Linked DNA regions of Homo sapiens: regions 1, 2, 3, 4, 5 and 6 are each linked to region 7. Evidence: fine-mapped expression QTL. A gene starts in region 7. Each other region holds a variant in brackets. All regions are shown on one strand. Distances are from middle to middle.

What was found. PIP is the estimated chance that this variant, and not a neighbour inherited with it, causes the effect.
Region 1: its variant is fine-mapped to the expression of ZNF514 in whole blood (TOPMed, PIP above 0.99).
Region 2: its variant is fine-mapped to the expression of ZNF514 in lung (TOPMed, PIP above 0.99).
Region 3: its variant is fine-mapped to the expression of ZNF514 in whole blood (TOPMed, PIP above 0.99). The same link has a PIP of 0.9 or more in breast, sun-exposed skin, thyroid and tibial artery.
Region 4: its variant is fine-mapped to the expression of ZNF514 in whole blood (TOPMed, PIP above 0.99).
Region 5: its variant is fine-mapped to the expression of ZNF514 in whole blood (TOPMed, PIP above 0.99).
Region 6: its variant is fine-mapped to the expression of ZNF514 in whole blood (TOPMed, PIP above 0.99).

What each region holds. Positions count from the first base shown.
Region 1 is chr2:95,235,972-95,240,032 of GRCh38, forward strand. It overlaps a transcript of ZNF892 not described here. Among named protein-coding and RNA genes, the nearest start is that of ZNF892, 30 kb to the left of the region's middle. RefSeq lists an enhancer at 4,017-4,061. The variant G/A (reference allele first, on the strand shown) is at 1,700.
Region 2 is chr2:95,084,907-95,088,973 of GRCh38, forward strand. It overlaps MRPS5 (mitochondrial ribosomal protein S5), which reads right to left. Exons shown (of 12, transcript NM_031902.5): 12 at 463-2,675. The coding sequence ends at 2,451. Among named protein-coding and RNA genes, the nearest start is that of MRPS5, 35 kb to the right of the region's middle. RefSeq lists an enhancer at 2,547-3,112. The variant C/T (reference allele first, on the strand shown) is at 1,625.
Region 3 is chr2:95,281,582-95,285,648 of GRCh38, forward strand. PROM2 (prominin 2) reads left to right here. Exons shown (of 24, transcript NM_001165978.3): 13 at 344-435; 14 at 561-645; 15 at 3,388-3,534; 16 at 4,058-4,067. Among named protein-coding and RNA genes, the nearest start is that of PROM2, 9.2 kb to the left of the region's middle. The variant T/A (reference allele first, on the strand shown) is at 2,548.
Region 4 is chr2:95,705,807-95,709,873 of GRCh38, forward strand. No RefSeq gene overlaps it. Among named protein-coding and RNA genes, the nearest start is that of TRIM43, 120 kb to the left of the region's middle. The variant A/T (reference allele first, on the strand shown) is at 2,080.
Region 5 is chr2:95,123,391-95,127,457 of GRCh38, forward strand. It overlaps a transcript of ZNF514 not described here. Among named protein-coding and RNA genes, the nearest start is that of MRPS5, 3.6 kb to the left of the region's middle. The variant T/C (reference allele first, on the strand shown) is at 2,007.
Region 6 is chr2:94,185,463-94,189,529 of GRCh38, forward strand. No RefSeq gene overlaps it. Among named protein-coding and RNA genes, the nearest start is that of AQP7B, 400 kb to the right of the region's middle. The variant G/A (reference allele first, on the strand shown) is at 2,185.
Region 7 is chr2:95,158,161-95,162,227 of GRCh38, forward strand. It overlaps ZNF514 (zinc finger protein 514), which reads right to left and starts at 1,688. Exons shown (of 5, transcript NM_032788.3): 1 at 1,080-1,688. RefSeq lists a silencer at 1,515-1,764.

The sequences.
Region 1 (4,061 bases), 78 kb after region 7:
ATTTTCATCAGAGATCTCCTGAACTGCTTGGGCCCACTAGGAAGTAGCCTTCTTTATTCACCTGGAAGGCAGGGGACTCTGTGGGCAAGGAGTCAGGCTGGTTTAGTCAGGGGGCTTTACTGATTCCACGAAGTCACCTCTAGTTCCTTAAATCTGTCTGGTCATATCTGAAAATAGGACATTCCAGTCAAAGCCTTGGCAATATAGTTAATGTTTTCAAATTGTGTCTTGTTTTAGATTCTTGTTGAACCTATGCAAACAACTATATTGCCATAAAAATAAGAATACTCAAAGTTTCCAGAATTCTGGAGGAATCAAGTAGGAAGTAAAGGAGAAATGTCTCAACGTTATTTACAAAGGTATAATTTACCAGACTGCTGTAAGGTATAGATAGCTTAAGAGAAAAGAGAAAAGAGTTTCCTTAAATATGGTAAACAAGACATTAAAGAATCACCAATGTTTTAAACAGTTATAAAAACTACAATCATCTTCTTTGGTTCATTTAGTTCCATGTAATTAATTCTCGTTCTGCTCTATCTTGGATTAGCAGTTTTCTGAATCCATCCATTTTTTTCATTAGAGCTGTGGAAATTTTTACCACATTCAGTGGTATGATCTGAACATTGTCAGGAGCCTGTATCATTGCATAGTACTTGTCAGAGTCTTTCCATGAATCTCTTTGAAGATGAAACACTTTTGTCTGTAGCTGGTTGTAAGAGCTTTCAGGAAAGCATCAGAGTATAACAACTGTCTGTGATAGACAAAACAAACAAACAAAAAATAACAACCTTCTAGAATAGTCATGATTGAGGATATGGTGAGAGTTTACTATAATAGAGTTGGCAAGAAAATTTTATTATTTCTGTGGAATACAATACCTTAAGATACATAGAATTATGACTGATTATATGGACACTAAGGGCATTGAAAAATTTCTAGGAATTTCACATACAGGCATATGTCATTTTTATTGCACTTTGATTCTTTATTACACTTTGCAGATATTGTGTTTCTTACAAATGGAAGGTTTGTGGCCACCCTGCATGGGCACAATTTATCCAACAGCATGTGCTCCCTTCGTGTCTCTGTGTCACATCTTGGTAATTCTCACAATATTTTAAACTTTGTCACCATTGTTGGATCTGTTATGGTCATCTATGATCAGTGAGCTTTTTTTTTTTTTTTTTTATTTTGAGACTAGAGTCTCCCTCAGTCACCCAGGCTGGAGTGCAGTGGCGCGATCACGGCTCACTGCAACCTCCACCTCCTGGGTTCAAGTGATTCTCCTGCCTCAGTCTCCCGAGTAGCTGGGACTACAGGTGCCCACCACCATGCCTGGCTAATTTTTGTACGTTTAGTAGAGACAGAGTTTCACCATGTTGGCCAGGCTGGTCTTGAACTCCAATCAGTGATCTTTAATGCTATTATTGTAGCTGTTTGGGAGCACCATGAACCGCCATTAAGATGGTGAACTTAATTGATAAATGTGTGTTCTGACTGTTCCTCTGACCAGACACTCCCCTCCCCACCTTCCTAGGGCCTCCCTATTTCCCTGAGACACAACAGTATTGAAATTAGGCCAATCAATAACCCTACAATGGCCTCTAAGTGTTCAAGAGAAAGGAAGAGTCACATGTTTCTCATTTTAAATCAAAAGCTAGAAATGATCAAGCTTAGTGAGGAAGGCATGTCCAAAGCC[G/A]AGACAGGCTGAAAGCTAGGCCTGTTGCACCAAACAGTTAGCGAAGTTGTGAATGCAAAGGAAAAGTTTTTGAAGAAAATTAAATGTGCTACTCTAGTGAACATTGAAATGATAACAAAGCAACACAGCCTTATTGCTGACATGGAGAAAGTTTGAGTGGTCTGGATAGAAGATCAAGCCAGCTGCAATATTCCTTTAAGCCGAAGCCTAATCCAGAGCAAACCTTGAATTCTATGAAGGCTTAGAGTGGTAAGGAAGCTGTAGAAGAAAAGTTTGAAGCTACCAGAGGTTGGTTCCTGAGGTTTAAGGAAAGAAGCCAGCTCCATCACATAAATTAAGTGCAAGATGAAAGCAGCCAGTGCTGACAGAGAAAATGCAGCAAGTTATCCAGGATATTTAAGATCATTGATGAAGGGGGCTACACGCAACAACAGATTTGCAATGTAGACAAAACAGCTTTTTATTGGAAGAAGATGCCATCTAGGACTTTCATAGCTAGAGAGAAGTCAATGTGTGGCTTCAAAACTTCATGGGACAGCCTGACTCTCTTGTTAGGGCTAATGCAGCTGGTGACTTTAAATTGAAGCCAGTGCTCATTTGTCATTCTGAAAATCCTAGGGCCCTTAAGCATTGTGTGAAATCTACTCTGTCTGTGCTCTATAAATGGAACAACAAAGCCTGAATGACAGCACATCTGTTTATAGCATGGTTTACTGAGTATTTTAAGCCCAGGGCTGAGACCTACTGCTTAGAAAAATGTTACTGCTCATTGACAGTGCACCTAAACACCTCAGAGCTCTGATAGAGATGCACAAGGAGATTAATATTTTCATGCCTGCAAATACAACATCCACTCTGAAGCCCATGGATCAAGGAGTGATTTCAACTTTCAAGCCTTACTATTATTTAAGAAACACATTTCGTAAGGCTATAGCTGCCACAGTAATTCCTCTGATGGATCTGAACAAAGTAAATTGAAAGCCTCTGGAAAGGAGTCACCATTCTAGATGCCATCAAGAACATTCGTGATTCATGAGAGGAGATCAAATATCCACATTACTGGGAGTTTGGAAGAAGCTGATTTCAGCTCTCATGGATGACTTTGCAGGGTTCAAGCCTTCAGTGAAGGAAGTAATTGATGATATGGCAGAGAGAGAAAGAGAACTAGAATTAGAAGTGGAGCCTGGGCCAGGCGCGGTGGCTCACGCCTGTAATCCCAGCACTTTGGGAGGCAGAGGTGGGTGGATCACCTGAGCTCAGGAGTTCGAGACCAGCCTGGCCAACATGGTAAAACCCCGTCTCTACTAAAAATACAAAAATTAGCAGGGCGTGGTGGCGCGTGCCTGTAATCCCAGCTACTCAGGAGGCTGAGGCAGGAGAATCGCTTGAACCCAGGAGGTGGAGGTTGCAGTGAGCCGAGATCACACCACTGCACTCCAGCCTGGGTGACAAGAGCAAAACTCCGTCTCAAAGGAAAAAAAAAAAAAAAAAAGTGGAGCCTGAAGATGTGACTGAATTGGAATTGTTGCCAATCTCATGGTAAAGCCTGAACAGACAGTTGCTTCTTGTGGATGAGCAAAGGAAGTAGCTTCTTGAGATGGAATCTACTACTCCTGGTGAAGATGCTGTGAACACTGTTGAAATGACAACAAAGGATTTAGAATGTTACATAAACTTAGTTGACAAAGCTGCAGCAGGGTTTAAGAGGAGGGACTCCAATTTTGAATGAAGTTCTACTGTGAGTAAAACACTATCAGACAGCATGCTACACAGATATTTTGTGAAAGAAAGAGCCAATTGATGTGGCAAACTTCACTGTTGTCTTATTTTAAGAAATTGTCACAGCCACCCCAACCTTCAGAAACCACCGACCTGATTAGTCAGCAGCCATCATCATTGAGGCAAGACCCTCCACCAGCAAAAAGATAGTTTTTTGTTTTTTTTTTTAGATGGAGTCTCACTCTGTCGCCCAGGCTGGAGCACGTCTAGCTCTGTCACCCAGGCTGGAGTGCGATAGTGCAATCTTGGCTCACTGCAACCTCAGCCTCCTGGGTTCAAGCAATTCTCCTGCCTCAGCCTCCCTAGTAGCTGGGATTACAGGCATCTGCCACCACACCCAGCTACTTTTTTTGTATTTTTAGTAGAAACAGGGTTTCACTATGTTGGCCAGGCTTGTCTTGAACTCCTGACCTCAGGTGATCCACCCACCTCGGCCTCCCAAAGTACTGGGATTACGGGTATGAGCCACTGTGTCTGACCTACGGGATAGTTTAAACATAACTTATATGCACTAGGAAACAAAAAATTTGTGTCACTTGCTTTATTGCAATATTTAACATATCAAATAAGCTTAAGTAGTCTA
Region 2 (4,067 bases), 73 kb before region 7:
TTGTTCTGGAACACAATTAAGTTACTTTGAAACAGTTGTGTTCCAGTTTGGTCTTGTTTTTAAGCTTTCTGAGTTGGGACCAGGGGTAGTTTTTATGTAGAGTTAATTTTTCTACTACTAGGGCATCTTAGTTCTCTTCCAATGCCACCTAGATTACAAGGTTTTCCACTGTGACTGTTGATAACAGGCACTATTTTCCACTCCAAACACTGTTCCCTCTAATTCTTTTGGGTGAGTTTCCTCACCGGCATGCACTATTAGTGTGTAACTAAATATCTGATGGAAACTCTCTGCAGATCTTAGTTCTCCTGCTGTGCAACTCTCTCCTCCAAGGCATTCTCCCCTGTGAACTCTAGTCATTTCGACTGCCCAACTGCACCTCAACTCCAGGAGACCGCCAGGTCCTGATGGGGTAACCCTTCCTAGAACCACGGACTCTCCGCAGATAGTAAGTACAGATAATTTTGTTTCCCCTCTCCAAAGGATCATTGTCTTTTATTGCTTAAAGTTCATTGTCTTTATATTTGTTAGGTACTTAAGAAGGAAAACTAACAGGACAGATAAGTTTTAGGAAATAACTACCTTACTCTAGCAAAATACCACACACAAAAAAAGGGGACCCACCCACACCAGACAACGTCACAGGCTGAAAACTTTCACCATCCAGCCTAACATGGCCTGCTCCCTATCCCACGGTGCCATTAGGGTGCTCCTCCTACTTCCAGCAGAAAGGCCTCAGCAGAGGTCCCGAGGACAGCGACAGGAGGAAACCTGGATCTCCATCCTCACCAGGCAGTAACGAGGCAGTGCCCCATCCCATACCAGCACCGTCAGAGGAAGCATGCTGAGAGATTTAAATAACTCCCAGAGCTTCATAACAGTGAAGATGACCAGGATACAGCCAAAGTCACTCATCATAACAAGAACTAGGACATTGTAAACTTGAATGAGAAAAAACCTCAAGGGATGTCAACACTAAGATGACACAGATGTTGAAACTTTATGACAATTTTTTTTTTTTTTTTGGAGACAAGGTCTCACTCTGCCACCCAGGCTGGAGTGGCATGAACAAGGCTCACTGCAGCCTCAACCTCCTGCAATCAAATGATCCTCCCACTTCAGCCTCCTATGTAGCTGGGACTACAGGCATACACCACCATGTGTGTCTAACTTTTAAATTTACTTTTACTTTTTGTAGAGATGAGGTCTCACTTTGTTGCCTAGGCTGATCTCAAACTCCTGGGCTGAAGCAATCCTCCTGCCTCACCTTCACAAAGTGCTGGGGTTATAGGCGTGAGCCACCACACCTACCTGATGACAAAGATTTTAAAGCAGCCACCATAAAAATGCTTCAGTGAGCAATTATAAACACTCTTGAAGCCATTTAAAGAAAAAAAAAGTCTCAGCAAATAGCCTCAGCAAATAAAGAGAAGACATAAAAAATAAACCAAATGGAAATTTTAACTGAAATATACAATGACAGTCAAAGTTAAAGTACTGCATGGATGGTTCAAGAGCAGAATGGAAAGGAAAGAGTAAATAACCAGTTATTCTGAAGATAAAACAATAGAAATTACCTAAACTGAGCAACACAGAGAAAACAGACTGGAAAAAAAATAAACAG[C/T]GCCTCAGGGACTCACGGGACAATAGTAAAAGATTCAACATTTTGGTCATCAGTGTCCCAGAAAGAGGATGTGGGTGGGGCAGAAAGAGTATGCAAAGAAATAAAAATATATATATTCCACAGAATGGGTAAAAACTTCTGTAAAGCATGTATGATAGGGGGGCTTATATCTAGAAACTATAAGGAACTCAATAATAATAAAAAATAACTTTTTAAATGGGCAAAGGCTCTGAATAGACATTTCTCCAAAAAACATATACAAATGGCCAATCAGCACATGAAAAGATGTTCAACATCATCAGCCATCAGGGAAATACAAGTCAAAATTGCAATGGTATACAATTAATATACCATTTAACATTCCCAATAGTAGCCTACAACTTCCATTTCCACTGTGGAAAACGGTTTGGAAGTTCCTCACGGTAGTCAAGTTACTTAACTGCTCTGTAAAATGAAGTTAATCACATTCACTTTGGATGAATGAGTTCATATATATTAGCTATAATTACTACAGCAATTATCATTGTGTACATTATTACTGATTGGGTCAAATTATTAACCCCGTCTCCCTAATTCATTTACTTTTGTTACTTTGGATGAATATTTAAAGTAGTCTTGAACTGAGATATGTATGTAAAGGTTCTATCACATTGGCATATAACATGTGCTCAACAAATGAAAGCTATAATTATTTATTTCCAAAGAGTTTAAAGATTAAACTTCCCTCAAAACAAACAAAAGGCAAGGTAACATCCCAAGCTGTGAGGGGCTGAGTCTCTCCTAGGTGCAGGGCAGCACAGGAACTGGCTGCACAAGGCCAGAGAGGTTACGTGGCGGCTCTCTTCAAATTAGACCACACAGAGCGCTTCATTCCCTGTGCAGTCTTCACATCTTCCCAGTCCAGTTTGACGTCTGGAACCTCATCTTCTGGCTCTGGATCCTTCCTCAAGGGCCCCCGGGGGGACGCAACCACAATGGGCAGAGGGCCACATTCCTCCCGGATTTCCACAACATGGAGGCCCTTCTTATCAGCCAGCTGTTGATGGGTTTCCTAAGCAAGACCAAATTCAGAACAGGTTAGGTCTGAAGTACATTTGCAACATAAAGAGCAGGAACTTCCACAGGCCACAACAGTACAGCCTGGGGGTATTCAAAGGCCATTTCAGTGGATTTGGGTTAATGTGTTTTGTGGCTAAACTCTAATAACCTGTCATGGGTGGAGTCATTTCAGCCTCATCTGCTGCATCTGCCCACCCCAAACTTGGATAGAGGAAGGGCCTTGGCCTCTGGTCTCTTGCCTTCTAAACCCTCCTGATTATGCACCATGCTGTGCCAAACACTGAACTTGAATCTCACCAACCCCCTAGATCTAACTACCAATTTACAGTAAATATAGGGGAGATAAGACACTAAGGACCCTACAGGTATTTTAGTCAGCAACAGGCCAGGAAGCACTACAAAACAAACAACCTGGTTTCCTCAACAAAAAATCATAAGCGGGGCGGGGGTGGGGGAAGAGGAGGGGAACCTATTTAAAAGGCATAGCAAAAACATACATTAACCTGTTCTGCAACCTGATTCAAACACATTGTGTAAAAAAAAAAAAAATTTTTTTTAATCTAACAAATGGAATTTGCTCATTTGTATGAACATTGATTGGATATTTGATGATACAAGTTACTGTTAACTTTTTAGGTATGATAATAGTATTACAGGGTATTTTTTAAAATCCTCATCTTTTCGAAGATACATACTAAAATATTTAGGGTTGAAATAAAATGTCTGAGATTTGGTTCAAAATAACTGGGGGTGTACTAAGAAGCAAGACTGGTCATGAGCTGGGTAACAGGGCCATGGGGATTCACTGCAGAGGGAAGCCACAGAGATCTGGAAGCAGGCAGATTAGTTCAGTAGACGTTATTCATGGTACAATGACATACCTGCTATGTCAATCCCGTGATCCCAGGCCTTATGGCTGCCTTGCACTATTCTAATTATATATCTAATGCCCTGCAGTATGTGTGAAATTAGAAAACAGATGAGCCATTTCATAAACAAAATAATTTATATTGGTGTATCTTTCAATCAAAGGCATATCACCTAAAGTGGTGGCATCTTTTCCTTTTTGAGTGACATATTAAATAATGCAACCTTTTATAGCTGATGGCATTTTAGGAGAGATGACATATGGTAACTATATCAGAAGGTTTAAAAGACTAAAAGAAAACAAAGATATCACATAAAAGAACAAGTCTAGGCTGGGCGCGGTGGCTCACGCCTGTAATCCCAGCACTTTGGGAGGCCAAGGCGGGTGGATCACGAGGTCAGGAGTTCAAGACCAGCCTGACCAACATGGTGAAACCCCATCTCTATTAAAAATACAAAAATTAGCCGGGCATGGTGGCACGTGCCTGTAGTCCCAGCTACTCAGGAGGCTGAGGCA
Region 3 (4,067 bases), 120 kb after region 7:
AGGGCAGGGACCCTGAGAGATGGCACCCTGACCCATTCCCTCTCATCTCCTAACACTGTCTGGGAGCTGGGACCCTGGTGCCCGGTGAGCTGCGATGCTGGACTGGGTTCTCTGCAGAAGATCGGGCTGGGCAACCCTCCTAGGGATTCATGGGAAGAGCCCCTGTAAGGATTTGGGGCCCAGGGGTCACCAGAGTTAGAGGCCAGGTGTGAGCTGGGGTGAGGGGATGTTTCCTACCCCTGGTCTGTGCTGTGCCACAGCAGCACAGGGCCAGGCCCTAGGGGACCAGGGTGGCCTTGCCCCCACCCCGCTCTGTGCCCATTTCTCACTGCCCCATCCCCAGTTTGCAGACACCCCAGGGAACCTGCCCCCGTCCATGAACCTGTCGCAACTTCTTGGCCTGAGGAAGAACATCAGCATCCACCAAGCCTATCAGTGAGTGGACAGCCTGGGCAGAGCTGGGACCGGGGAAGGAAGGAGGAGGGCCGGTGTCCCTCAGGGGACATCAGCCCCCCCGCCACCCCCAAGGCTCATCGTCTGCACCCCTCACTCCTCCTCAGGCAGTGCAAGGAAGGGGCAGCGCTCTGGACAGTCCTGCAGCTCAACGACTCCTACGACCTGGAGGAGCACCTGGATATCAACCAGGTGAGAGAACGTTTTGGAAACTGTGAGGAGCCCTCCTCAGATCCCCCTCCTCTGGTCTTTTTGCCTCTGTGGAGGCACCGTCTCTTTGAACCTAGGAGACCTGAGAAGTCTGTGTGAGCGATTAAGGTGCCCAAGGGCAGAGGCCCAGTTATCAGCTCTGGGGAAGGTTCCGGGTGTGTAGGTGGGTCCGTGTGCACCTGAAGGCTATGTCCAGCCCCAAGCACAGCCAAGGTGGCAGCAGGAAAGGCTGGTGACAGTGAGCAGGAGGATGAGGGGGCCCATGTGTCCTGACTGAGGACAGGCATTGGCTGGGATGCTCCACTTGGGAGGGGGAGGCTGGGGAAGGACGTGGCAGTGACAAGGATGGTGGTGAGTCTGGCTAACGTTGGTGGAGGGCCTGCCAAGCTCACGCAGGTGGGAGGTGGTGGTGGCAGGATTCCATCCCCAGCCTGACAAGCCTCTTCCTGTAACCTCTGGAGTTACTGGAACTTGGTGTGTAGAACTGGAGACACTTGCCAATGCTGGAAAGAGACAGTTCTAGAATGAAGGCAAGGAAGGGCTGTTTCACAAGAGGGATGGACTTTGAGAATGGGGCTCTCCTCATGGTGCACAGCAGCTGGAAGACATTCACTCCTCGACTTCCACGCTCCTAAGCATATGCTGGGGAAACCCACATCCCCTGGCCCTGGTTCCCCTCGCCCTCCCCAAACACAGAGCATGCTAACTCCTGATTTTGCATCGTTCTGGGAAACCCTTCCAACCCCTGGATCCACCAACCAGCCTCGGCCCACGGACAGCACAGCCGGATGGCCCAGCCCCAACTCTGTACCTTGAACTGCACAACCTGGGACAGTTATGCAGCTCACTCCTCCTTCCGCATCTTTAACCAGACAGGAGCTCCCCGAGCAGGCGATATCTCAGTGCTAGGCTGAGACACTGCCCTGTGGAGGAAGCCTGGCCAGGGAGGGATGAACCAGGGGCCTGGGCAGAGGAGCCCCCATCCTCTACTGGCAGGAAGCCATGGCTCTCGAGGGGAGGAGTCCTGGGCTCTGGTCCTTGGCAGGGGAGGGTCCAGCTCACAGGAGAGTCTGGATAGATAGGGCTTTGGATTCAGATGCACTGGGCAGTCCTCTGAGGCCACCTGACAATGTACCAAATGTGGCTGTAAGAATCCTCGTCCTCAAAGGAGACACTGATGGGTAGGCAGACATGAGTAACACACAGGGCTTTCCAGAGCACGGGGAGGGCACCAGCCACCTTTCCACTTCTCCTGAAGCTGCTGCCACTGATGCCTGAGACACGGCCCGAAGGCCCCCACCCGAGAGGGCCAGGCCTTTTCTCCTCCAGGAGAAGGCAGCCTGGAGGGATGCGGGGAGGAGAGCCAAGCTGGGCTGCAGTCTCTAACCACCTGTGTAACCTCGGCAAGTGGACGCTCCACTCTGACCTCAGTTTCTTATCTGTTAAACACTGGGCTGACTTTTATGACCTCTAAATCTCTTCCAGTGATAGTAGGAAAATGCTAAGGCTCTTTCCTGAAAATACAGTTTCATTCATTCATTCATTCATTCATTCATTCATTCATTCACACAGCTAACAAACTTGTCTCCTGCCCACCATGTGTGACCCTCCGAGTTAGATGCTGGGGGTTTGGGGCTGAATAGGCAGGCAAAGTCCCACTCTTGTGGAGCTGACAGCATTGAACAATTAACCCACAAATAAGATCATTTCAGAGCAACAAGTGCTTTGAAGGCCTCGACACAGCTGATGGGATAAAGAGCGGCTGAGAGAGCTATTTTATTTCAGGTGGCCAGGGAAGGTCTGTGTCTCTGCCCAGAAGCCAGATGGGCACTGGAGGAAGGCCAGGTCTTGGCATTTGGGGCAGGGGCCTACTGGGAGCCTGTC[T/A]GGGGCTTGGGGTGTCCAGGGCAGGGGGCCCTGAGGGCCTGCTGTGTGAGTCTGTTCTTGTGTTGCTATAAAGGAATACCTGAGGCTGGGGCATGGTGGCTCATGCCTGTAATCCCAGTACTTTGGGAAGCTGAGGTGGAAGGATTACTTGAGCCTAGGAGTTCAAGAACAGCCTGGGCAACATGGGGAGACCCTCCTCTACAATTTTTTTTAAAAGCCAGGTGTGGTTTCTTGCACCTGTAGTCCCAGCTACTCGAGAGGCTGAGGTGGTAGAATCACTGGAGCCCGGGGGATCTAGGCTTCAGTGAGCTGTGATTGTGCTATTGCCCTCCAGCCTGGGCAACAGAGCAAGACCCTGTCCGCTTCCCCAACCAAAAAAAAAAAAGCAATACCTGAGGCTGCATAATTTATAAAGAAAAGAGGTTTAAGTGCAGGCTGTACAGGAAGCATGGCACCGGCAGCCGTTTCTGGGGAGGCCTCAGGAAGCTTCCACTCATGGCCGAAGGCCAAGGGGAGCCAGCACATCACATAGGGAGAGAGGGAACGAGAGAGCCAACGCAGAGGTGCCACACTCTTTCAAACACGTGAAATAACTGAGCAAAACTCACTCATCACATGGCAATGGCACTAAGCCATACGTGAGGGATCCGCCCCCGTGATCTAGTACCTCCCACCAGGCCCACCTTCACCCCCAACACCGGGGATCACATTGCAACATGAAATTTGGAGGGGACAAATATCCAAACCATATCGCCTGGTGACCCCTGTGCTTAGGGGAGCATCTCTGGGGTCCTGGCTCAGCAACTGGGCATGACTCCCACCCTGCGCCTGCTCTCCCAGTATACCAACAAGCTACGGCAGGAGTTGCAGAGCCTGAAAGTAGACACACAGAGCCTGGACCTGCTGAGCTCAGCCGCCCGCCGGGACCTGGAGGCCCTGCAGAGCAGTGGGCTTCAGCGCATCCACTACCCCGACTTCCTCGTTCAGGTCAGCGGTGGGCACCTCAGCAGGGCTTCCTCAGCAGGTGGTGATGGAACGAAGGGGCCCACAGAGGAGCTGGGTGTGCATCTTGCCTTGTCCCAGCTCTGGCTCTTCCACATTTCCTGGGGCCTCTTCCTGTGGAGGTGTCCCCAGATCATGTGCCCCTGGGCCTGTCCTCCTGCCACCACCCCGGTCACACAGGAATGGACAACCTCTCCCCCAACCCAACAGCATGTGTTGCTGTTCATGGTCCTGAACCCACTGCTGCCGAGGACGCATTGGGAAGTTGCCTCTTCCTTAGTTACACCAGAGGGTGCCTTATTTGTTCTTGTTGTTTCTATCTCACTGGGAAAATGTCTGAAATATTTCACAGTTCCAGGGAAAACTCACTGTGACTGATGTGTCACAATACACTTAGCTGGTGTAGGTTATATTTGATAAGACTGGGGATTTGGAGGCTGGGATCAGGTGGTGGTGGGCCCCAGGGGAGCTGGGTTCATCCCTCCTGGCCTCTTCTGTCCACCTGCAGATCCAGAGGC
Region 4 (4,067 bases), 550 kb after region 7:
TTCAGTAATCAAATCAATTTATTCTCTGTTTCATAACATCTCTTCCCGTCATTATTGCCAGAACCCTGGTTTAGGCCTTCACACCATGTTTCATTAGCCTCCTAACCTGATTTCTCATGGACAGTTTCAATGTCATGTTGACTCATCATGCCCCTTCTCCACAACAGATTTTACAAAGCCTTCCTTTGCCAACCCTTATGGGAGAGCTTTACAGCCCTTTTAGTAAAAGGACTTGTCTTCAGCCAAACACATTCACTAACATTGAGGTTTCTTAATTTTTGTAGCAACTCTCACCACTGTGCTTATACATGTGTGAAATTCTGGGCTCAGCACTCCCGAGAAACCTTCTTAGATCACCCCCTTCCACCAAGTCCCCTTTCTTTCCTATGGGTTTCTGTGCAGGCACGTCATTCTTTGGTAACATCCTGCCTGGCATGACCATCATCCTGATTCATGTACGTCTTATACCTTGTACCCTGTGTCTGGCTGCACAAAACTCCTGCTCCTGCTCTGAATCACCTACTGTTTCTCTGATGCACTGTGACATTCATTAAATTCAGTGGGATTAATGGATGGAGTATTGTTTCTCAGGACACAGGAGAAGGTTGGGGTTGGCCTCCTTTAAATTAGTGCAGACTTAGGCTATCTTCCTTGTTGCTCTTGATGTTGCCAGACCAACTCTCTATTTGTCATTGACCCCTTTTCTAAACAATGCGCTCAATTTTCCCAGCTCGCCTTAGTTCCTAATTTCTCTCAACAATCCACTTATCCTGGTTCCCTTTTGGGACATGGTCTTGATTCATATCTTACTGAGCTCTCTGGGACACAGTATAATAGGCTATAGTCATAGAGTCAGGAAAAGGGACAAGAAATCAGAAAATTGTATTCCTTTTATAGCACTGGAAAAGTCACTTACCTTCTTTGACTCTCCATTGTCTTCCATGATAAACTATAAATAGTAATATTTCCCCTCTCAGGATTGGTGTGTGATCCAATGAGATAATGAACATGGAAAACCTTTGCACACCATGAAGCACTATGTGAGGGGTATTATCAGCCCTCCTTCTCTTTACCTTCAGATATCGCTCTCTACCCACAAAGTGCTTCCTTTACCTTTCATCTCACCTGTGGCCTCCATCTGACTCTGGCTGCAGCAACTTCAGTCTTTCCCTCTTCGTGCATTCTTTCCTCTCTATTGACAATCCTTTCCCTGCCTTACTCACTATCCCCACTTTCCTAGCATATAAACAACCTCTTACTTGATCCTTCTGTGTGTTCCACCTCCCACCAGCCACTGTCTTCTTCCCTTTCCTTTTGTAAACAGAGAGGACAACAAGTAGTCCCTCCTGCTGGCTCATTGCCTACTCTTTCCATAGCTCCTGCATTTCTTCCCAATGACTCTCCCTAAGCCAGCAGATCTGTTTAAGTTCTCAGTTCTTATCCTCCTTAAACTCATTGTTTCGTCTTCTTTTCTGATTCAGTATCACCCCATCCTTTTACAGTGGGCTTGTCTCCAGGCCTAGTCTTCTTGCCATCTGCTCTGCCCCGACACAGGGAACCATCATGCACTGCATTCTCTTATTTTACTCCATTCAGATTGAGTCATACTGGGAGTACTGTGTTTACTTCTAGGTTTCACCTTCAGTGAGAATTATGACCAACTCAGGGATATTCAATAAGGAGGACCAAGATGGTAAGGGCACTAGAATTATCTTCTCTTATGGAACACTTGATAGAATGGATGTATTTAACCTACAGAAGAGAAAATTCAGAGGAAATGTACACTTTGCTGTCTTAACACATTTGAAAAGATGCAAAAAATTTTTTGTTTACTGATTTGAATTCCTACAGAAAATGGAATTAGACAGAAATTACAGACAGGTAGATATGGAATCACTAGCAAGCAATACATGCCAGGCTTGTGAAGGCTCTGCCATCAGATGACATGGGTTCAAATCCCAGATCGACCACTTCTGTATGACCTTGAGCAAGCTATATCATTTCTCTGTGCCTTCATTTTGTCATCTGCAAAACGAGGATAGATAATTATAGTGCCTACCTTATAGTGTTATTTTGAGG[A/T]TTAAATAAGACAGTGCATGTACAGCCTAGAAGAATGCCCAGCGCAAGGAGACTGCTCAATACATGTTAGTTGTCCCCTTCTCCTGCTCCTCTTTGTATCATCATCATCATCATCATCATCATCATCATTATCATCATCGTCATCATCACCACCCGCATTTAGAGCTGTCCAGGAATGGAGCCAACTCTTCACAAAGCAGTAGACTTCATGTTTCTAGAAGAACACTCAACCCAAATGGTACTGGGGACATAGCAGAAGTGTCTGCTTTGGCGAGGTAGGTAGGACTGGATGCCATCAAAGGTCCCTTTCTGTGTTTGCTCTTCACCACCACTGTCCCTGAGCATCTCCCATTCTGGGTTCTCTGGGTCTATCAGTGGTGGTGCAATGCTGTCTGGCACTCAGGCCTAAATCATCCCTTTAGTTCCTTGGCTCCCTCTTACACATTTCACCTGGCAGACATAGAGGCTTCCTGAGGGCAGGCCCTTACAAAAGGAATCCATGTCCATAAGCCTCCATTCCCACACAGAGTCTCATGCCTCCTCACATCACTAATGCCAGTATCTTTGTCCCTGCCCTCCTAATATTTGGCTATCCTGTGGAATCAATTTGGCATCTAGCTTAAACCAATTTCTTTTTTTCTTTTTTTTTTTTTTTTTTTTTGAGATGGAGTTTCACTTTGTCGCCCAGGCTGGAGTGCAGTGGCGCGATCTGGGCTCACTGCAAGTTCCGCCTCCCGGGTTCACACCATTCTCCTGCCTCAGCCTTCCGAGTAGCTAGGACTACAGGCGCCCGCCACTACGCCCGGCTAATTTTTTTGTATTTTTAGTAGAGACGGGGTTTCACCGTGTTAGCCAGGATGGCCTCAATCTCCTGACCTCGTGATCCGCCTGCCTCGGCCTCCCAAAGTGCTGGGATTACAGGTGTGAGCAACCACGCCCTGCTGCTTAAACCAATTTCTAAATCTGTTTCCTTGATAGAATTCCGGACCTTGGATCCACCCACTTTCTCCCCAAGCTGGCTCCAGCTTTGTACAAGCATCTCTCACCAAGATCATCAAACTAAAGGCTCAAGCCAAAACACGCATCTTTTTAGTCCTCAATCACAGGGTCTGTGATTCTTTTATTGCTGAGTCTCCTGCATCCATCTGATCATTTCTATTTCCTTTGTTCCCACCTTTACCCAAGCCATAATCTTCCCTGCTCTATTTCATAATTCATAAAAAACTCTTGGCTGGGTGCGGTGGCTCACTCCTGTAATCCCAGCACTTTGGGAGGCCGAGGCGGGCAGATCACGAGGTCAGGAGATCAAGACCATCCTGACTAACATGGACAAACCCCGTTTCTACTAAAAATACAAAAAATTAGCTGGGCATGGTGGTGGGCGCCTGTAGTCCCAGCTACTCGGGAGGCTGAGGCAGGAGAATGGCCTGAACCCGGGAGGCAGAGCTTGCAGTGAGCCGAGATCGTGCCACTACACTCCAGCTTGGGTGACAGGGCAAGATTACTTCTCAAAAAAAAAAAAAAAAAAACCACTCTTATACTCAGCTTCTTCTCTCCAACACCATCCATTTCTCCCTTCTTCAAACATTTTAGTGCTTCTATAGCCAATGATAGAGTTCGAACACCTTAAGTTGAACCCAAAATCCTTCACATTCTGGCCAATTTTCTTCTATAGCTTTCTTGAAGTATAATTTTATGCAATAACTTTCATCCATTTTAAATATACTGTTTGGTGAGTGTGAGAATATGAACACAGCTGTGCAACTTTCACCACAATCAGGATTAGTTCATTTCTATTACTTCCCTGTGTCCTCAGGAACAAATAATGTTCCCATTGTTTCAATCCACTTCCTGCCATCTGTTGTCCCATACAGCCACTAGTCTGCTTTCTGTCACTACAGTTTTTCATTTTCTAGAATTTCATATAAATAGAATCTAACAGTATACAGTTTTTTATGTCTGGCTCTTTTACTTAGCATGATGCCTTT
Region 5 (4,067 bases), 35 kb before region 7:
ATACTTCTAACCAGGCAAAATGAACAACCAGGCACATTACTCTTATCTTCTTCCCACTGGGAGGATTTCCCTTCACCGCCGTCCTTCAGAAGCATCCCAGAGTGGGATTGCAGTACTGCAGCTGTCCACTTTCAGGTGATACCAACAGATCATGCAGAACCATGAGTAAACCAAGCCCAAGAGTTTTCTTCTTCAGGCAACTGGTCACAGGTAATTCCTCATGAAGCTGTGGGTAGGGGTTGAGAGAGAGAAGATCATGTAGCTTGCATGTTCAGGTCCTGCTCCAGTTCAGTTTCATATGTACCACTTCCATTCGATGATGGAGTGTTGCTGTGCACACACAACTTTATGGCTTGGTGATCATACAACAGCCAGTTCATGATGAGCAGCTTAAACTGCATGGTAAGTTGCTGGTCAATGGTCAAGCCTCCAGACTCTGTTAAGGCCCAAAGCAAGTTTTGATTACTTAGTCGTTTGTTTCTAACTTTTAAATTTGAAATAATTACAGATTCAAAGATACAGATAGGAAGTTGCAAAAATAGTACAGAGAGGTCCCATGTATCCTTTACTCAGTTTCCCCAAATGGTACATCTTACATAACTATAGTACAACATCAAAACCAGGAAGCTGACATCGGTACAATCCATAGATTTTATGAGTTTTACATACACTCATTTGTGTATGTGTGTGTAGTTCTATGCAGTTGTGTCACATGTAGATTTCTGTATCCAGCACCACAATCGAGATACAGAACTGTTCTATCTCCAAGATCACCTGTGCATCTCCCTTCGAGTCAAACCCACCCCCTCTTTTATCCTCTCCTCCACCATCTTTAACCTTTGGCAACCACTAATCTGTTTCTCATCTCTATAATTTTATCATTTTAAGAACATTATATAAATGGAATCAGATAATACATGATCTCATGACTGGCTTTTTTTCACTCAGCATAATACCCTTGACGTCTATCCAAGTAGTTCCATGTACCAATAGTTTCTTCCTTTACATTGCTGAGTAGTATTCCATGGCACTAACATTTGTTTAACCATTCACCCATTGTAGGACATTTAGTTTGTCTCATATTATTATTTTTATTTTTATTTTCCTTTTCCTTTTCTTTTTTTCCTTAAGACAGAGTCTCGCTCTGTCACCCAGGCTGGAGTGCAGTGGCATAGTCTCAGCTCACTGCAACCTCCGTCTCCTGGGTTCAGGCGATTCTCGTGCCTCAGTCTCCTGATTAGCTGGGATTACAGGCGTGTCCCATTACACTCAGCTAATTTTTTGTATTTTTAGTAGAGACGGGGTTCCACCATGTTGGCCAGGCTGGTCTCAAACTCCTGGCCTTTAAGCAATCCACCCACCTCAGCCTCCCAAAATGCTGGGATTACAGGCGTGAGCCACTGCACCCAGGCTGTCTTCAGTTATTAACTATTTCAAACAAAGCTGCCATCAACATTCATGTATGTGATTTTTTGATATTTAGAAATTTTATTTTATTTTTATTTTTTTGAGACAGAGTCTCACTCTGTCGCCCAGGCTGGAGTGCAATAGCGCGATCTCGGCTCACTGCAAACTCCCCCTCCCAGGTTCAAGCGATTCTCCTGCCTCACCCTCCTGAGTAGCTAGGTAGAGGCCTGTGCCACCATGCCCAGCTAATTTTTGTATTTTTGTAGAGACAGCATTTCACCATGTTGCCCAGGCTGGTCTCAAACTCCTGACCTCAAGCGATCCGCCCACCTCAGACTCCCAAAGTGCTGGGATTACAGGCATGAGCCACTGTGCCCAGCCAGAAATTTTAAAATTGTGGTAAAATACACATAACATAAAAATTGCCATCCTTTTTTTTTTTTTTTTTTGAGACGGAGTCTCGCGTCGCGTCTCGCTCTGTCGCCCAGGCTGGAGTATAGTGGCATGATCTCAGCTCACTGCAACCTCCGCCTCCTGGGTTCAAGCGATTCTCCTGCCTCAGCCTCCTGAGTAGCTGGGACTACAGGCGCCCACCACCA[T/C]GCCCAGCTAATTTTTGTATTTTTAGTAGAGACAGGTTTCACCATGTTAGCCAGGATGGTCTCGATCTCTTGACCTTGTGATTCACCCACCTTGGCCTCCCAAAGTGCTGGGATTATAGGCGTGAGCCACCACACCTGGACCATCTTAATCATTTTTAAGTGTACAATTCAGTGGCATTAAGTACATTCACGTTGTTGTGCTACCATCACCACCATCTATCCACAGAAGTCTTTTATCTTTCAAAACTGAAACTGCAGCCATTAAACAATAACTCCCCATTCCCCTCTCCCTTCATGTAAGTGCAGTTATATAGTATTGTCCTTTTGTGACTGGCTTATTTCACTTAGCATGTTGTTCTCAAGGTTCATCCAGGTATAGCGTGTGCCAGAATGTCCTTACTTTTAATATTATGAATAATATTCCATTGTATGAATAGATCATATTTTATTATCCATTCATCTGTCAATGGACACTTGGGTTGCTTTCACCTTTTGGCTATTGTGAATAATGCTGCTGTGAACATGAGTGTGCAGATAATCTCTTCAAATCTCTGCTTTCAATTATTTTGAAATATATCCATCATGTACATGATTTTGTGTGGCTATAAGTTTTAATTTGGGGGGATAAATGTCAAGCTGTGAGATTATTAGATTGTGTGGTAAGTATATGTTTAGTTTTTAAAGAAACTGCCAGCCGGGCATGGTGGCTCACGCCTGTAATCCCAGCACTTTGGGAGGCCAAGGTGGGTGGATCATCTGAGGTCAGGAGTTAGAAACCAGCCTGGCTAACATGGTGAAACCCCATCTCTACTAAAAATACAAAAATTAGCCAGGTGTAGTGGCGCACACTTGTAATCCCAGCTACTCAGGAGGCTGAGGCAGGAGAATCACCTGAACCCAGGAGGTAGAGGTTTCAGTGAGCCGAGATTGAGCCATTGCACTCCAGCCTGGGCAACAAGAGTGAAACTCCATCTCAAAAAAAAAAAAAAAAAAAAAAAAGAAAGAAAGAAAGAAAGGAAGAAAAAAAGAAAGAAACTGCCAAACTACTTTCCAAAGTGGCCATTCCATTTTATATTCCTGCCAGCAATATGTGAAAGATCTAGTTTCTCTGTATCCTCACTAACATTCAGTGTTATCCCCATTTTTTTTAGCTGCTCTCATAGGTATGGTGACATATCATCATGGTTTTAATTTACATTTCCCTAATAGCTAATGATGTTGAATTTCTTTTCATGTGCTTCTAGAATTGCCATCTGTATACCCTCTTGAGTAAAATGTCTTTTGCTCATTTTCTAGTTGGATTGTTTGGTTTCTTTCACTGCTGTGTTTTGAGAATTCTTTGTATATTCTACATGTGAGCCCATTTTCTTTTTTTTTCTTTTCTTTTTTCTTGGAAACAGGATCTTGCTGTATCGCCCAGGCTGAGTGTACTGGCACTATCATAACTCAATGCAGCCTCACACTCCTGGCCTCAAGCAATCCTCCTGCCTTGGCCTCCCATAGCTACAGGAATAACCACGGGATGGGTTCTGGGACCTATTGCGCCCACCGTGAGACAGACCTGACCTAAAACTCCACCAATCACCTGATCTCTTTATGCCTCTGCTCTGACAGGTCACTGTGACATTTCGGGTCTCCAGGAATTGGTGTCAGCTCAGAGGCAGTGTTGAGTAATCCTTAAAACATCTGGATATTTCTCTGTCCTTGATGCATAGTCACCCTGGTAAATGGCTACAAGTACCTTTGGGGAAGGCTGAAAGGAAGATTAGCTGTACGTTTTTGGTAGTGTACCAATGCCTTTCCTGAGAGGGGACCCAGCCTGCCCTTCACTCGAGGGACTCTGGATCTGTGAATTCACTCAAGTCTGGGAATTGATTGAGGAGACATGACTCCCTCTTTTGGTGATTCAAGTCAGACTTCTGTTCACTAGGCCTAGATCTTTTCTGCCTATACAAATCCAGTAAGACTTCAGTAGGTTCTCCATCTCTTTTATTTCCAGAAACACCAAAGGTCAACACCAAAGGTCCTAGTGAGCCTGGCCATTCTGATGATTGTGTTTGT
Region 6 (4,067 bases), 970 kb before region 7:
AGACAGAAGCATTCTCAGAAACATCTTTGGGATGTTTGCATTCAAGTCACAGAGTTGAACATTCCATTTCATGGAGAAGGTTTGAAAAACTCTTTTTGTGGAATCTGGAAGTGGACATTTGGATCGCATTCAGGCCAATGGTGAGAAAGGGAATATCCTCGAATAAATACTTGAGAGAAGCATTCTCATAAACTAGTTTGTGATGTGTGTGCTCAGCTAACAGTGCTGAACCTTTCTTTTCATAGAGTAGTTTTGAAACACTCTTTTTGTCGAATCTGCATGTGGATATTTGGAAAGCTTTGAGGATTTCATTGGAAATGGGAATATCTTCATATAAAATCTATGCAGAAGCATTCTCAGAAATATCTTTGGCGTGTTAGCATTCAAGTCACAGAGTTGAACATTCCGTTTCATGGAGCAGGTTTGAAACACTCTTTTTGTGGAATCTGGAAGTGGACATTTGGATCGTTTTGAGGCCTGTGGTGAAAAAGGGAATATCTTTGCATAAAAACTAGACACAAGTATTCTCATAAACTAGTTTGTGATGTGTTTGCTCAACTAACAGAGTTGAACCTTTCTTTTGATACAGCAGTATTGAAACACTCTTTTTGTAGAATTTGCATGTGGATATTTGGACAGCTTTGAGGATTTCGTTGGAAACGGGAAAATCTTCATATGAAATAGAGACACAAGCATTCTCAGAAACCTCTTTGGGATGTTAGCATTCGAGTCACAGAGTTGAACATTCCCTTTCATAGAGCAGATTTGAAGCACTCTTTTTGTAGTATCTGGAAGTGGACATTTTGATCGCTTTGAGGCGTAAGGTGAAAAAGGAAATATCTTGCCACAAAAACTACACAGAAGCATTCTCAGAAACTACGTTGTGATGTGTTTACTCAGCTAACAGAGTTGAACCTTTCTTTTGATAGAACAGTTTTGAAACACTCTTTTTGTAGAATCTGCAGGTGGATATTTGGATACCTTTGAGGATTTCCTAGGAAAAGGGAATATCTTCATATAAAATCTAGACAGAAGCATTCGCAGAATCACCTTTTTGATGTTTGCATGGAAGTCAGAGAGTTGAACATTCCCTTTCATAGAGCAGCTTTGAAACACTCTTTTTGTAGTATCTGGAAATGGACATTTAGATCTCTTTGAGGTCTATGGTGAAAAAGGAAATATCTTCGCCTAAAAACTAGACGGAAACAGTCTTCAAAACTTGTTTGGAATGTGTGTACTCAACTAACACAGTTGAATCTTTCTTCTCATAGAGTAGTTTTGAAACACTCTTTTTGTAGAATCTGCAAGTGGATATTTGGATAGCTTAGAGGATTTCGTTGGAAACGGGAATATGTCCATAGAAAACCTAGACAGAAGCATTCTCAGAAAAATCTCTGTGAGGATTGCATTCAAGTCCCAGAGTTGAACATTCCCTTTCATAGAGCAGGTGTGAACACGAGATTTTGTAGTATATGGAACTGGACGTTTGGAGTGCTTTGTGACCTATTGTGAAAAAGGAAATATCTTCCCATATAAACTAGGCAGTAGCACTCTCAGAAACCAGTTTGTGATGTGTGTAGTCAACTAACAGGGTTGAACCTTTCTTTTGAGAGAGCACTCTTGAAACAGTCTTTTTGTAGACTCTGCAAGGGGATATTTGGATAGCTTTGAGGACTTTGTTGGAAAGGGGAATACCTTCATATAAAATCTAGACAGAAGCATTCTCAGAAACATCCTTGGGATGTTTGCATTCAAGTCACAGAGTTGAACATTCCCTTTCATGGAGCAGTTTTGAAACACTCTTTTTGTGGAATCTGGAAGTGGACATTTGGATCGCATTGAGGCCTAAGGTGAAAAAGGGAATATCTTCGAATAAAAACTAGACAGAAGCGTTCTCATAAACTAGTTTGTGATGTGTGTGCTTAACTAACAGAGCTGAACCTTTCTTTTCATAGAGCTGTTTTGAAACACTCTTTTTGTAGAATCTGCATGTGGATATTTGGAAAGCTTTGAGGATTTCGTTGGAAATGGGAATATCTTCATATAAAATCTATGCAGAAGCATTCTCAGAAATATCTTTGGCGTGTTATCATTCAAGTCACAGAGTTGAACATTCCGTTTCATGGAGAAGGTTTGAAACACTCTTTTTGTGGAATCTGGAAGTGGACATTTGGATCGCTTTGA[G/A]GCCTGTGGTGAAAAAGGGAATATCTTTGCATAAAAACTAGACACAAGTATTCTCATAAACTAGTTTGTGATGTGTTTGCTCAACTAACAGAGTTGAACCTTTCTTTTGATACAGCAGTTTTGAAACACTCTTTTTGTACAATTTGCATGTGGATATTTGGACCGCTTTGAGGATTTCGTTGGAAACGGGAAAATCTTCATATGAAATCGAGACACAAGCATTCTCAGAAACCTCTTTCGGATGTTAGCATTCGAGTCACAGAGTTGAACATTCCCTTTCATAGAGCAGGTTTGAAACACTCTTTTTGCAAAGTCTGCAAGGAGATATATGGATAGCTTTGAGGATTTCGTTGGAAACGGGAATATCTTCATATAAAACCTAGACAGAAGCATTCTGAGAAACATCTTTGGGGTGGTAGCATTCAAGTCACTGAGTTGAACGTTCCTTTTCATAGAGCAGGTTTGAAACACTCTTTTTGTGGAATCTGGAAGTGGACATTTGGATCGCTTCGAGGCCTGTGGTGAAAAAGGGTATATCTTCACATAAATACTAGACAGAGGCATTCTCATAAACTAGTTTGTGATGTGTTTGCTCAAATAACAGAGTTGAACCTTTCTTTTGATAGAGCGGTTTTGAAACACTCTTTTTGTAGAATTTGCATGTGGATATTTGGGCAGCTTTGAGGATTTCGTTGGAAATGGGAAAATCTTCATATGAAATCGAGACACAAGCATTCTCAGAAACCTCTTTGGGATGTTAGCATTCGAGTCACAGAGTTGAACAGTCTCTTTCACAGAGCAGGTTTGAAGCACTTTTTTGTAGTATCTGGAAGTGGACATTTTGATCGCTTTGAGGTGTAAGGTGAAAAACGAAATATCTTGCCACAAAAACTACACAGAAGCATTCTCGGAAACTACGTTGTGATGTGTTTACTCAACTAACAGAGTTGAACCTTTCTTTTGATAGAGCAGTTTTGAAACACTCTTTTTGTAGAATCTGCAGGTGGATATTTGGATAGCTTTGAGGATTTCCTTGGAAAAGGGAATATCTTCATAGAAAATCTAGACAGAAGCATTCGCAGAATCACCTTTGTGATGTTTGCATGGAAGTCAGAGAGTTGTACAATCCCTTTCATAGAGCAGCTTTGAAACACTCTTTTTGTAGTATCTGGAAATGGACATTTAGATCTCTTTGAGGTCTATGGTGAAAAAGGGAATATCTTCGCCTAAAATCTAGACGGAAGCAGTTTTCAAAACTTGTTTGGAATGTGCGTACTCAACTAACAGAGTTGAATCTTTCTTTTGATAGAGCAGTTTTGAAGCACTCTTTTTGTAGAATCTGCAAGTGGATATTTGGATAGCTTAGAGGATTTCGTTGGAAACGGGAATATGTCCATATAAAACCTAGACAGAAGCATTCTCAGAAAAATCTCTGTGAGGATTGCATTCAAGTCCCAAATTTGAACATTCCCTTTCATAGAGCTCGTTTGAAACACTCTTTTTGTAGTATCTGGAAGTGCACATTTGGAGCGCATTGAGGTCTATGGTGAAAAAGGAAATATCTTCCCATAAAAAGAAGACAGAAGCATTCTCAGAAACTTGTTTAGGATGTGTGCACTCAACTAACAGAGTTGAAACTTTCTTTTGATAGAGCAGAACACTAAATTGAAGTTTAAAATAATTGTAACAATTCCATCTTATATAGCAGGTCAGATTTCATAGTTTGGTTCAAGTAGTTTTCAAGTGACAAATTTTCAAGGTTTTTAGTTTTCAAGAGTTGTGCAACTTCGTCAGCCAGAAATCAAGCAAAAGGCTAGATAAGTAGCAGCAGGTGCGGGATTCTTGATATTGAAACTTTTAGGACTTTTCTCCTTAGGGATTCC
Region 7 (4,067 bases):
GGCTCAAGACTTGCTAAGACACTGTTTGAGGATGTGTGGGGCCCCAGAGTCTGCAATTCTAGAGAACTTCTGGGCAATGCCTCTGCTGTTCCCAGAGCCACACTGATTAACAAGGGTATAAAGGAAAAAAGAGGGGGTGGGAAGCCCACGGACTGGGCCCAGTTCTTCCACTGGCCAGTTATGTGTCCTTGAGCATGTGCACTGAAGGATGAACAGTCGGATTAAAATGCCCACCTGGTTAGAGATAGGACGTTCTAAACTTAGGACTGGCTTAAAACCTCCTGGGTCACCTGGATTGCCCTGCCCCCAACGCTATTGGGGGAAGGGGCTCAGAGGAGATACCCACCATGTACACTGCTGACCTTATACACCGCTGAGCTAGAACGACTGGAAGAACCTTATTAGTGAGGTGATTAAGGAGGTGGATGACAAGGCTCCAAATGGCCCTATCGTCCTCTGATCCCTGGCCAAGGGCCACTCCCTCTTGGGTTTGCTTGCCCTCTCCCTGCCGCAGCAGGAAGAGATCAGATCCTCTTCTGCTCTCCTCTGGCCATTGGGACAATTTTCCATGGCCATCCCCTCCACCTCCGCCACGGTCATCTAGAGACCCCTGCCAGACCCAGGAGACTGCGGCTTCAGCCTTCTGGGTCTGGAAGGTTAGATGTCGCCACACGGAAGGCAGATGAAGTACAGCCTCACCCTTCAGTGGGATTCCCCGGCCTCTTCCTGGGGTCCTCCTGATATCGGGCTCGGTACTAGCTCCCCAAGAGGGCTCCTGGCCCTCTGCACGCTCCAGAGCCAAACCTGATGCTGTGGAGTCCATAGCTGGGGCTAAGGAGCGGCGTCCTTTCACTAGGTCCAAATCTCTGTCTTTCGGCCACAGCCCTGTGGTCCTCCCGAGGGTTCAGGGAGCGGGACGCAGGCTGGGGCTGCCTGGGGGACACGGGGCATCCCCACTAGGCGCGGCGGGGCCAGCGGACCTGCAGGGCCCAGAGCAGGGCCGGCAAACCCCGGTGCGCCCAGCGCGGCGCACTGCTGCCCGGGGTCGTGCTCTTCCCTCGCCAAGTCCGGCCTCCTACCCCCGGCTCGGCTCCTCCTCAGGACCAGGCTCTGGAACCCAGCTCCCACGTGGATCCACACGCACAGTGGGCTCAGACTACCAGGAGACACGGCCACAGCCACGCCCGCGACGCGAGGGCCCAGCGCTCTTCAGCTGCCCGGAAACAGCAGGGATTCGGTGAGAGCCTCACAGGAGCAGGGACCGACTCTATCAGCCCGGTTCGCCCCGCTGTCCCTGCCTAGCTCCGGCCTGCACAGTCCCTAGCGGGGGGCACTCGGAGGGACACACCCAGCTCTGTAAGGGGCCGGGGCGCGGGCCCAGTACAGGTCTGCGCGCCCGCAGTCTCCGAACGCTCACAGGACCAGGCCCCGCCCGCCACCCCGCGCCAGCCCCCGCCCGCCACCCCGCGCCAGCCCCCGCCCGCCACCCCGCGCCAGCCCCCGCCCGCCACCCCGCGCCAGCCCCCGCGTCCGCCCCGCGCCAGCCCCCGCGTCCGCCCCGCGCCAGCCCCCGCGTCCGCCCCGCGCCAGCCCCGCCTCCCGAGGCCGTCCCGAGCTTGCGCAGACGCGGCCGCCGCCGGGGCCCTTCAGAGCCAGCGCCGGTGGCGGGGTGCTGGCGCGGCGAAGCTGGAGAGGCGGGGCTCGCGGGCGCCTGTAGGACCTCCGCTGGGAGGGGCCGTGCTCGCCGGCCACGCGCCGGTTTTCACTCCGCTCTCCCCCAAGGGCAGGGACCTACAAGCATTTCCCTTCTCGCGCGTGACTTTGGTAGCTGAGCCTCATATCTCTCTCGTTTTTTGGGGGGAGGGGGGAGACAGCCTCACTCTGTCGCCCAGGTGGGAGTGCAGGGGCGCGCTCTCGGCTCACCGCAACCTGTCTTCTGGGTACAAGTAATTCTCGTGTCTCAGCCTCCGTAGGAGCTGGGATTACAGGTTCCCGCCACCACGCCCAGCTAATTTGTTGTATTTTTAGTGGAGACGGGGTTTCACTATGTTAGCCACGCTGGTCTCGAATTCTGACCTCAGATGATCCTCCCGCCTCAGCCTCCCAAAGTGCTGTGATTACAGGTGTGAGCCACCGCCCCCAACCTGCATATCTCGATGTAAGGCTATTCAACAGAAGCCGCGTTCCTACCCTGGATCTGCTGAGTGAGGATTTCCAGGAGGCTCTCCTGGCGTGCCTAGGGGATACTGGGGACTCAGTGCTAGATACTGCTTCTACAGGCTGCCCCGTGCCTCTTGCCTTTCTCCATCTGCCCCTGAATTCAGCGAAGGGTGCTGAAGAACAAAAGAGGACTTTGAACGCCCTCCTACTCCAGAAACAAATATCATTTAGGACCCAAAAGAAATGGAAAAACGGCCTGCTATGGTCTGAATGTATGTGTCCCCCTCAAATTCATATGTTGAAACCTAACTCCCAAGGTGATAGTATTAAGAAGTGGAGCCTTTGGAAGACTCTGCCCTCATGAATGAGATTAGTGCCCTTTAAAAACAGCCCTTAGACCGGTCGTGGTGGCTCACATCTGTAATCCCAGCACTTTGGGAGGCCAAGGCGGGCGGATCACTTGAGGTCAGAAGTTTGAGACCAGCCTGGCCAACATGGTGAAACCCTGTCTCTACCAAAAATATATTTAAAAATTAGCTGGGCGTGGTGGTGCACGCCTGTAATCCTAGCTACTCAGGAGGCTGAGACAGGAGAATTGCTTGAACCCGGGAGGCAGAGGTTGTGAGCCAAGATCGTGCCACTGCACTCCAGCCTGGGCGACAGAGCAAGACTCCGTCTCAAAAAATAAATTAAATAAATAAATAAAAATAAAAACGGGCCTTAAGCCCCCTTTGCTCCTCCTGCCATGTGAGGACACAGAAGGTGCCATCTATGAGAAACGTACCCTCACCAGCCCCTGAACTGGCTGGCACGTTGATATTGCATTTCCCAGCATCCAGAACTGTGAACAACAAATTTGTGTTGTTTACAAATTCCCCAGTTTAAGACACTCTGTTATAGCAGCGCCAATGCCTAAGACACAGTCTGAGTATTAAAACGGTGGTTTTCTGGAGGCAGTCCTCAGCCAGAGAAGGGCCACTTGTGAGGACAGAGAGATTGGTTTATCAACCCTATTTAGGAGTTCAGGACAAAATAACTTACAAAATCAAGGCAAAGACAAAATAACACGAAATCAAGGCAAAGAGACCATTCTCCTTTCCTGCTTTTGCAGTCTCTGTTTCACTTTTCTGCCAGCACTTCCAGTGGCACAGATGGCCAGGATGGCGCAGCAAGCAAGCCCTTTTCCACGCAGGGGGACATTGTCTGGGAACCATGGCTGATATAGGAGCTTTTCCATCTTCGGTGCTCCGAACCAAAAAGGTGAGGGGATGGACAAATGAGAAAAGATTTTCATCTCATTGATGGCTCAACAGAACTAGAAATGGAACTACTTCAGAAGAACTTGAGGGCCACTGCCTTTCCCTGATGCCCATTCTGTAGGCCTGCTGCAGTGTCTGAAATTCCCCACTCTTACATTGTGTCCTTTGGGACAGATCTTGATCCAGAGGCCCTTGTTTGTTACAATGCACATTCATTACCCCAGGAATATTCTCTCTCCTGCTCAGTGCTCTAGTGCACCATTTGATCTCAAAGCACTGTTGGTGGGGCTCCAGTCCTCACCAGCCTATACACTCTCCATCACCTTCAATATTCCTTTTACTGCTCCTTTGCAGTCAAATGCCTCTTCCACCCCAACCCGTGACCACTGCTCTGTTACCTTCCCTATAGTTTTGCCTTTTCCTGAATGTCACATAAATGGAATCATACAGTTTGTAAATTTTTAAGACTGGCGGCCGGGCGCAGTGGCTCACACCTGTCTCTACTAAACCCCGTCTCTACTAAAAATACAAAAATTAGCCGCGTGTGGTGGCGTGCGCCTGTAATCCCAGCTACCTAGGAGGCTGAGGCACGAAAATCTCTGGAACCCGGGAGGCAGAGGCTGCAGTGGGCCGAGGTTGCAACACTGC